Regions from separate parts of the Homo sapiens genome. Here region 1 is linked to region 2. A link means that fine-mapping ties the variant in region 2 to the expression of a gene that starts in the linked region. Tissue or cell type: whole blood. Region 2 holds a variant in brackets; the other region holds the start of a gene. All regions are shown on one strand. Distances are between the middles of the regions.

Evidence for each region. PIP is the estimated chance that this variant, and not a neighbour inherited with it, causes the effect. A credible set is the group of variants that fine-mapping cannot tell apart.
Region 1: it holds the start of GSN, and the variant in region 2 is the best candidate, but not a certain one, in a credible set for the expression of GSN in whole blood (INTERVAL, PIP 0.66).

Annotation. Positions count from the first base shown.
Region 1 is chr9:121,265,769-121,271,138 of GRCh38, reverse strand. GSN (gelsolin) reads right to left here and starts at 2,977. Exons shown (of 18, transcript NM_198252.3): 1 at 2,920-2,977. RefSeq lists a silencer at 2,790-3,089.
Region 2 is chr9:121,289,214-121,294,583 of GRCh38, reverse strand. The region is part of intron 2 of GSN (gelsolin); the gene reads right to left. Among named protein-coding and RNA genes, the nearest start is that of GSN-AS1, 6.4 kb to the right of the region's middle. RefSeq lists an enhancer at 1-195. The variant A/G (reference allele first, on the strand shown) is at 3,364.

The DNA of each region.
Region 1 (5,370 bases), 23 kb after region 2:
CTCGGCCTCCCAAAATGCTGGAACTGCAGGTGTGAGCCACCATGCCCAGTTAAAAGATAGCTTTTTATTATTATCATGCAAACCAACATCTCTCCATTTTACACATGAGGAACCAGAGGCTCAGAGAGATAGGATTTGCCCAAGGTCACCCAAAGAACCAAGACTGGGGGTCCATTTCCAAGTCAGTGCTTCTAACTTCTCTCACACCTGTGGTCTCTGATAAGCAAATATACACACCCAGAGGCCGCAGACACAGGATGTAAAAGTTTTCTTAAAGAAAACCAGAGCTCAGTGTCTCAGCAACGTACCATAGACCAAGCAGAAATCATCTCTATGACCCACATCACAAATGACCCAAACTATTCACATGGAGTAGGGGAAAGTGACCCACTGTCACTGGATGGCTAAAAGTGAAGGCATCCAATCAACGTGTTTGGCAGGAGTGCACACACCATTGTTAACAGTGGCGACCTCTGGGGAAAGAGGCGGGCTTGGAGGGATTCTTTAACAATTTTTGTTTGTTTTAAAACTCATGAAAAAGAAAAAAAAGTTACAATGCTGAATACCTTAGCAACCTTCTCCAGTAGGTCTAGCCTGTTGTCTGCTTTTAGATGAAATTTATAGCAGGTTCTGAGACCTTCAGCTGGGCTTCCAGAATCTGCTGCTCTGACCCATCCCAGTGGCCACTGCTCTAGTTCAGACCTGCAATCTACTTCACTTGAATCATGCAACAGCCTCCTCAGGGCCTTCCTGCCTCCAGATCAGCCTCGTTCAATGCATCCCCTACATCAGCCATTCAGAATAACGAGTTTTTAAAAATCACTGCTCTGTCAAAACCCTTTCTCAGCTCTTCATTGCCTTCAGGATGAGGTCCAAACCCTTAGCTTATAATCTAGTTCCATTTTCATTTAGATTCTCAACCTCCCACCACCCCGCCCTTCTCCCATCCTCCACTCTAGCCACATGGATGGCTCAGAAAATCTCAGTGCCTTTGCACTAGTGGTTCCTGCTTCCCAGAATGTCTTTTCCCCCAACTCCTGTTTCTCCTGGTAAATGATTATTCATTCTGAGGTCTGGCTCACCTAGACAAAATTAGTCACTCCTCTTGCAGGCTGAAGTCACTCTTAATATGGCACAAAAGTGTCAAACAGTATAGATGGCAAGCATCTTGAGGACAGAGAGCTCTGTCCTCTTCCAAGGCTCTTTGGCCCCTCGCAGGGCAAGGCACAGAACACAGGCCCAGAGAAGTGCTGAAAGGAGGGAGGCGGGGAGGAAGGAAATGCCATGCGGGGCAAACCCTGCAGCCACCCCTCCTGGGAGCAGCCTGTTTCCAGGCTCATGTTAGTCCCTAATAAAAGGACTGTGGAAAATTCTGGAGTAAACTTTCCTCCCCTGATTCACACAGAAACCTTCTTTGCTGCTGTGTAACTCACCGAGTGCCAACCCAAGCTCCCCTGGCTGTTTACAATTTCCCTGGCATTTATAAATAGCATGGCCCCAGAAAGAAAAATGGAGTTTCAAAGGAGCTGAAAGCCGACCGTTCCCACCCCCATCCTTCCTCCTCTGTTTCCAAGCCTCTCCCCCTTAACAGCCCCAAGAAACACCAACCAGCACCCCCAAGTGTGTATGTACAGGGAATGCTTGTCCCTTTAGTAAACGGAACACCCAAGAAGGAGGCTAGAGTCCCTCCCAGCAAGGAGTCCGCAAACGGCAGACCGGAATTGGGTCTCAGCCCTACCCTGCCTCACTGTGTGACAATTAGCCCATCATAAACTCTCTGGGTCCTTGACTTTTCTCAACTGTGAAATGGAGGAAATGGAGATGGGGTAAGATTCTAGCAAGCTATGGTCGCTGTAAACGGCAGAGCGGTGAGAGGTCCTGGTGCCCTGGTCAGAAATGTGGTCCTGGGAGAACAGGACACACAGGATTAAGTGTTTGAAAAGTCCCCAGATGCCAAACAAAAGCGAAAGGCACCTCCCCAGAGGCCCCGCCTTCCACAAAGTCCAATTACCCTCAGGACAGCCCAGAATGAGTTCTGGGTGTTTTAAAGCTCCCTTCCATGCTCTGAGGAGGGTGTGAAGACAGGATAAAGCGACAGATGTCTGGGCAGACAAGGAGCTAGGAAGAAAGCCAATGTCTCCTGCTCACCCACACCCCCAGCCCCCAGCCTTCCAAGGACTGGGGCTTCCCCCTGGGCACTGCCCAGACCAGCCAGCCTGCACTGGACCAGAGGGAAGTTGCTGTTATTTAGGTTCTGGGGGGCTGGACCCCAGAAGACATGGGGGCTCAGGGAGAAGGGGTTCCAATCACTGTCTTCAACTCCAGAAGAAGCTTCCGTGTGAGTCAGGGAAGGGAACACTGCAGGGCCGGGGAGAAGCCAGCACCTACAGGTAGCAGGCGCCTGAAGATTTCAGACAGTGTAAGGAAGAACTTTCTAACAGTCCCCAGAAAGAGGAAGCAGCTGGAGAGGAGAGCAGGCACAGGTATCGTCCAGGAGGCAAGGGTCCTCTGAGTGGACTCCCCAGCAGAGTCACCGCCCAGACCGTAGCTGGTGGTCCCCTGCATGCCCGGGTCAGACAACCCAAGTGCAGGGGTGACCCCGGGCCAGTTCCCCCATCCCGGGGGCGGGGTCGAGGTTATTAGCTCAGGTGCTAGCAGCACAGTGGAATCACGGGGTGGAGGCCTGGCCCCTCTCCTCTCCTGCTCCGGCGTCTCCCCATCCCCCAACTCCCATCCACACTCTTTGGTCCCTTGGAAGACGGGAAAAGTGAGCGAGGAAGCCCTTTTCCAGCGATGCCCCCGCGGCCGGGCCGAGCTCCAGGCGCGGGCGAGATAGGACCGGGAAGGAAGGGAGAGGAAGGACTCAAATCAGCCCGGGACCCCCAGATGCCCGGGGCCGGGGCCGCGCGCCTCCCCTACCTGCTGCTGCGGCACTGGAGACAGCGGCTGCTGGGTCCAGCTGCGCTCAGCTGGTTCCGGGCGGCGGGGCGGGGGCGTTGTGGTGCGCGCGGCCGGGGTGGGCAGGGCGCGGGCGGGAGCCGCCCTCGGGGCGGGGCGGCCGGGCAGGCGGGTGGGGGAGGAGCGCCAGGCCCTCCCGTCGGCTGCTGGGCGGGTGGCTCCAAGCTCGCCTTCGTCCAGGGGGACCCCTCGCTTCACCTCGCAGGAAGGCACCAAACCAAGCCCTCTGCTTTCCCCTGGAGGAAACTGAGGCCCGGAGCACGGAGGGGAGATCTGAAGAGGCCTAGGGTCGGGGAGGAGACCCAGGGCAGCTCCTGAGCTGGGCTGGGGCCAAAGAGCTCAGATGGGACGGGCAAGCGAGCAATGCTCAACTAGCACCAGCGGAGGCAGATTTCAGCCCTGGAGAGAACGGACTTCAGGAGGCAAAGCCCTCGAAGAGTGACATAGGCTGCATGCAAAGCAGGGGAGATTCCCTCCCACGGAAGGGAATAAGGAGGAAGAGCGATTCCCAGCTCATTCCGAATGAAGTAACGAAAATGCCAAGTGCATCCCTGGTCCTTAAAGTGGACCATTAAGCAGGCGCCTCGGAGTCAGAAGGCCTGGTTTGGAACCCCAGACATCGACTAGTCCTGTAACTTTGGGCAAGCGAGCTCACATGTCTAAGTCTCCGTTTCCTCGTTTGTCAAATGGGCATCCTGAATTGCCGCTTCATGGGGCGGTTGAGAAGACTCAGTGAGAAAAAGACTCTCAGCACAATGACAGGGACCGTGGCTTCTGCATAAACGGAAGGGATGTTCTTATTAGTGTCATGGCAGATACTGTTTTAGGAGATTGAGGAAATCCACATTGGGTAGAAAGATGAGTGCAAGGTCAATTTTAAGCAAATGTAATACTTTGTTGATTTCAACAACATCTCATATGCATTTGAGACGATAGCCGTTTATAATGCAGCAAGGCATAAGACGGCCTCCCAGCAGTCCTGGTGCACACATGAGTTCCCAGGACTTTTGGAGTTGCCGCGTGACTCCGGTTTGGAAGGATTCACACACTCCACAGGAGACTGCACCACATGACAGAGATGTCCATTCCCAGCCTGGGTGCTGGCAGCAGCCCCATGTTCAGCCAGGGTAAAGCTCCCTCTTAACACAAGGTAAAATGTACTAGAGTCAGTAATTGCCGGGTGCTGGGGATCAGAGCAGAAAAGGCTGTTGTTTAAGTAGCACAGAAGCCAAGAGCACAGTGCTCACTCCCTGGTTTTTCCATTGAATAGCAGCCAGGGAAGCCACAGGACCCAGGGAATCTCACCCTGGCTCTTCCTCCTGCCATTCTCTCTTTGTTCAACACCAGTAAATACAAGAACCATTTCTTGAATGCCTCATGCCATGCTCTGGGCTTCCCACGTATTACCGACTTTAATTCTCACCTCCCTACCTGGCCTCCTAAGGGAGGCATTACCATGTGTATTTTTCAGATGAGCAGGCCAAGCCCACAGAAAGGGTTAAGTACTCTCTGGAGGTCACACTACTGATACTGTGCAGTCTACTCTTCTATGCCTGAGTCCTTGGCCCTCGCTTCTTTGCTCAATGTCTTATGTCACACTCTGCCACCTTTCCTGGCTTGGGAAATTCTGCCCAGTTCCACTTTCTCTGAGAATACAAGCAAGGTATCCACCCCGCAGGGAGGCTCACACCATCTCTGCTACTCTCTGCTTTCTCCAGAGGCTGCCTGGGGCCCAATGCAAGGCTGCTGGGGAGAAAAGCAAAAACACAGGCTTATTTGGCTCTGGAATCTTTGATTACAAGCCCCGGCATACACATGCCTTGGAATTATCTAACATATCATTTCCAGCCCCAGCAACTGCTCTCAGACAAAGGGAGGTGGAACTCTGAATCTGTGTCCCCATAGAACTGGAGAATACCACATCACGATGGAGGAAACATTGGAGAATGTCTGCTCCAACTCCTCCCTTTAGAGATGGAGAAACTGAGGCCAGGAGAGCAAAAGGGTTCACATTCTAAGCTAGATCTAAGGTTCCATATTCTAAGCTGGGTCAGATGCCTACCCATAACCCTGTAATTGCTCCATTTGGTGGCTGGAGAGGAACATGGGAACAGGGTATCACCAGGAATCATTAGAAATGATAATGAAGATAATGATGATGATGATTGATTGATGATGATTGTGATGATGATAACCAATACTTACATGGGAGTGCTCCTCTAGGAACACTTCTAGAAATCTCCTGGTGCTTTGCTTTATGACTCAACATGTGTATTTTATAGCTGGCAGGATATATCAAGTCTGCCTTTCATGGATGCCTAGAAGTCTTCTTGGTATCCTGTCTTCATTCCTTTCTAGATACCTCTTTGTACTTCTCCCCCCATTGGATCTAGGTAAGGTAAGGCCTGTTTG
Region 2 (5,370 bases):
GTCTCAGGGACCAAAGCCATGGTCCTTTCCCAGCTTCCGGAGCCAGCCCCACCTAGTGCTGGGACCCAGGGCTGGACATCTGGAGGGGCCTGGCCCTGCTACTTCCTGACCCCATGTCCTGGAAGCAGCCAGATTTGGCCATGGGTATGAGCTCTGGGCCCTTCTTGCTAGGACCCACTTCAGCAGTCTGTCTCCCCTTCTCTCGGGGAGGAAATGGCCCTGAGAGGTGTGGTGGGTCAGTAGCCAGGGCTGCAAATAACTGTCCTAGCCCCTTCAGCACCCCACCACCCACCCCTGGGAAGCCCAGGCACAAACGCAAATCCACAACAAGACAGGGAGGCCTGGCTGCAGATGCTGGGACCGTGGAACCAGCAGAAGACTTTGGAGAGTCACAGGCTCTGCAGAGCTGCAGGGGAAGGCAGGGTCTACAATGCCCCAACCCAAGCCAGAATGAGCAGGAGAAGCCACAGGAGGCAGCTTCCTGCTCTGCAGAGGAAGGACTTTCCAAGAGGGAGAAAAACAGAGAGCAACCTTCTGTTATGTGATCGTGGAAAGAGCTCCCACCAGAAATGCCTGCATTTAAGTCCCCGGTCTATCACTTATTAGCAGTGTGGCTTTGAGCAAGTTGTTTTGGCTCTCTGAGCCTCCGTTTCCTCATCTATAAAACGGGGATTATAATACTTTTTTCCTAGGGTAGTTGTGTGAATTTAATAAGGTAAAGAACATTTGGGGCTTAGCACAGTGCTTGGTACAGAATAAGCACATATAAAGGAGGCTGCTTTTATTGTTAAAAGAGAGACTTGGATAAGTTTCTATCTCTCTGAGCCTCAATTTCCTTACATGTAAGATAGGGTTAAAAATGCCTTTCTTTTTTTTTTTTTTTTTTGAGATGGGGTCTCGCTCTGTCACCCAGGCTGGAGTGCAGCGGCGTGATCTCGGCTCACTGCCACCTCCGCCTCCCAGGTTCAAGTGATTTCTGGCTAATTTTTGTATTTTTAGTAGAGACGGGGTTTTACCACGTTGGCCAGGCTGGTCTCGAACTCCTAACCTCAAGTGATCTGCCCTCCTCGGCCTCCCAGAGTGCTAGGATTACAGGTGTGAACCACCGCGCCCGGCCTATTAAATGGCAAATTTTATGATGTGTGTATGTTTCCACAGTTTAAAAAAAAAAAAATGGAAAGACAAATGCTGGTTTCCTTCCCCTTTTCCAGAGAGATAATGAGCTGCCCAGTGGTGATGAGGTTGAGGGGACATAGGTGACAGGAAAATCGGCCCATGTCCAAGAACCCTTCAGGCCCTGGGACTCAAGGATGCTAAAAGACACACAGCAAAAAGCAAACAAGTTTGTGCATCTGGCCAGGGTCCCCTCCTGCCTGCCTAGGGATCAGATTCATCCTTCACTGGGATCTACCAGGAATGCTGGAAGCTTCCCCAGGCCAACCACCTTCCCGATGGGGACAATGAATGATGCAGCACATCAGATGATGGTGCCACATCCCTCCTGCTGCTGGCTTCAAACAAAGCCCTTCTGTGTCCCCAAGCCTCCCATACCAACTATGGCCAAGATTTCCTCCTTGCTGGGCTCTGGCAGGAAGTGTGAGCCCATTGTCTGGATGTGGAAAATCGGGGTCAAAGTGCCTTTCTTGAAGGCTAGTTGAGACGATTAAATGAGACCATAAATGTGAGGGATCCGTGGACCATGCCCCGCAAAGGCACTCTGCAGGGAGAACTCCCTGAGAAAGACAAAAGGGGGCAGGTGCGGGGAAGAGGGAAAAGACAATGGGATCCAGGAGTGCCTGCGGAGTCTCTGTGGGCTGGAGATACCAAAAATGACCAACAGGGTGAGGACAAGTGACCTTCCAACCTAAGGAATATGAGGCAATGTACAGGGATGAATCTGGACAGAGCCCAAATCCCTACCACCAGGGAACTTGAGCCAGTGGCACCTTCTGCGGCACTTCAATTTCCTCCTCTGTAAAATGAGGTGAAGATGCCAACCTGGTGGGGTGTCTGGTAGGACTGAAGGAGCCCTGGCACTGTGTTTGGCACACAGCAGGTGCTCAGTAAGCATAACATCCAAAGATGACCTACAGCATGTGTCCAGACCCTATACACACATACAGCTCACTGGCCCCTATACCTGCCCTATACCTACCTCATACCTAGCCCTCTACCTCTGTGTCTTTGCATACAAAGCAAGGGAGACAGGGAGGGTTCCAAACAAGGCTGGTACCAGGGATGGGGATGCATCTCAGGAGAGGGCCTCAAGCCAACACCTACAGAGCCAGCCTTGCTACCCAATCCCCTCCATGAGACTCCTAATGACACCCCCTCCCCTCCTCTCTGACTTTGCCTGTTCTGCCTCACCCAAAAGAACAAGGGCTCTTGGCTGGGCATGGTGGTTCATGCCTGTAATCCCAGCACTTTGGGAGCCCAAGGCAGGAGGATAGCTTAAACCCAGTAGTTTGAGAACAGCCTGGGAAACAGAGTGAGACCCTGTCTCTACACAAAATTAAAAAATTAGCCAGGCGTGATGACATGCACCAGTAGTTCTAGCTACTGGGGAGGCTGAGGTGGGAGGATCACTTGAGCCTGGGAAGTCGAGGCTACAGTAAGTTATGATTGTGCCACTGCACTCCAGCCTGGGTGACAGAGTGAAACCCTGACTCAAAAAAGCAAAAAACCAAAAACAAAAAAGTGAGGGCTCTGGATCCCAGTCCTAGCACTTACAACTGAGTGATGCTGAGCAAGGGACACAACCTCTCTGAGCTTCAGTGTCCACAGGGATAGAATGGCCATATTATCTCACGGACTCACCAGAACTTGATACAAGTACAAATCAGTTAGAGAAAAAGTCCAATGGGGGCCAGGTGCAGTGGCTCACACCTGTAATTCCAGCACTTTGGGAGACGGAGGCAGGTGGATCACTTGAGGCCAGGAGTTCGAGACCAGCCTGGCTAACATGGTGAAACCCCATCTCTACTAAAAATACAAAAAATTAGCCGGGCATGGTGGTGGGCATCTGTGGTCCCAGCTACTCAGGAGGCTGAGACAGGAGAATGGCTTGAACCCACGAGATGGAGGTTGCGGTGAGCCGAGATCGCGCCACTGCACTCCAGCCTGGGTGACAGAGCAAGACTCCAACTCAAAAAAAAAAAAAAAAAAAAGTCCAGTGGGGAGACATATCAGAGAATAGTTGTCCCTCCCTATCCACGCGGGATCAGTTGGTTCCAGGACCTCCCTCAGATACCAAAATCTGCAGATGCTGTACACCAATATATAAAATGGCATAGTACAGTATTTGCATACAACCTACATATATTCTCCCATGTATTAAACTTTAAATCTCTCTAGATTACTTAT[A/G]AAACCTAATACAATGTAAATGCTATTTACATAGTTGTTATACTGTAGTTGTTACATAAAAATGTAAATGTAAATTTCTATGTAACAATAAACTATGTAAATAGTTGTTACACTGCACTGTTTTTAAAATTTGTATTATTTTTACTTTTTTTAATTTTTATTTTTTTTTAATATTTCTGATCTGTGGTTGGTTGAATCCACGAATGAGGATATGGAGGGTGCAAGGTAGCAGATACGTGGAATGAACAAGTGTAGAGAGCTTGTGCCTGTAATCCCAGCACTTTGGGAGGCTGAGGAGGGAGGATCACTTGAGCCCCAGAGTTCAAGACCAACCTGGACAATGTCGTGAGACCCTGTCTCTCTCTATATTAAAAATAACAAAAATAAAAATTTAAAAATAAAAAAGAGCACTAATGTGCAACATGAGGACTATAGGGAATAAGTTGTACTGTATTTTGGGATTCATGCTAAATGAGCAGATTTTATTAGTGCAGTGCAAAAGTATTGCAGTTTTCGTCATTGAAAGTAATGGCAAAAATTGCAATTACTTTTGTGCCAGCTGAGATGATGAATATGTTCATTTGCTGCACTATAGTAACCTTTTTACTATCTAAATGTATTCATAACATCGCGTTATATACCTTAAGTATATACAATAACTTGTATTTTTTAAAAGAGAAAAACTCCACATAGCATGATTAGAGATTCTTCACAATTTATCTAAAACTTTTGACTACAATAGAACCATCAGAGATTCAAAGATATTTTTATTGCTACTCATCCTTTTAACTCTAATAGGTTTTATTTAAAATACTTTCCCCTCCTTTAACCCAAACAGAGGTATAGTACTGGAATGCTTTTCTTCCTTCCCCAGCTTAGAGGATAATCATAGCCAGCCGGAAGATTTAAACAAGATCCAGCACCTAAAATACAGTCCCTGGCACGAAGCTGGGCTCCCGTGTGGGTGCTGCCTTCTGTCCCCGGGTGTGCTTTAGGCCTCACCTCCATCCAGGCACCTGCCCAATCACCAGCACTATCCTTCAAGTGCCTGTCCATGTGGGAGTTTCTAGAACCCTCTGGGATACCCTTGGAGGCAGGACCCAACCACGGTCATCCCACCAAGACAGTACATAAAGGCTGAGACCAGAGCAGAGACCAAGCTCATCTCCTCTCCACTTTATACCCACTTCTCACCCCCACACTCCAGCCACTGTCCTGGTTTGGTGTCCCCATCTTTTCCCTGGGATCATAACATCAGCTCCCTCACTCCCTTAAACTCTCTCTGCACTGGGCCTGTCACTCATACAGATTGCATCATCCCTTCTGCAGACCTCGGTGCAGACAGAAAGAAGTCAGGACTCCTGAGTTCGGTCCTCTGTGATATGGGGCCCACAAGCCCTTGCAGTCTCATTGCCCACTAACCCCCCAACAACATCCCCTGTGCCATCACCTCTATACAACCTCACCTGCCTGCCTCCGGGAGACCAAGGTCTAGCCTTGGCTCTGCCTCCCTGTGTGACCTTAGGCAAGTTCTTTGCCTCTCTGGGCCTGTCTCCTCACCGGGCTACTGGGGCTTTATGCAAATGAGACAAGATGAGGTAGTGAGTGCCAGGTGCCAAGAGGCTCAAGAAATGTTAGCCTGCAATCCACGGCCTCCTCTTCCGCACATCCAACCCCTCCTACAGCAGCTGTTAGCAATCTACTTCCTCAACCTTAACAGCAGCAGGTTCTCTCTCTCCTAAGCTCTGGAATGCAGACGTGCTCACAGCCAGCACCAGCAGGCAGGGAGGGGAGCGGAGGGAGGACAGCTTAGAGGAAAATTACCCGGCTTTCACCCCAGCCAACACTGGTGCTCACAGCTATCTCAGAGAGAGGGGATCTGGGGGCCTGGCAAACCCTTCCTGAGCCGTGGGCTTGGCCCCAAGCTTTGACCCTTGTCTGAGCTGATGGGATGGCGGGGGGTTACTCTGGCCACCACTCCGCTGGGCCCCTCCCACTCTTTGGCAT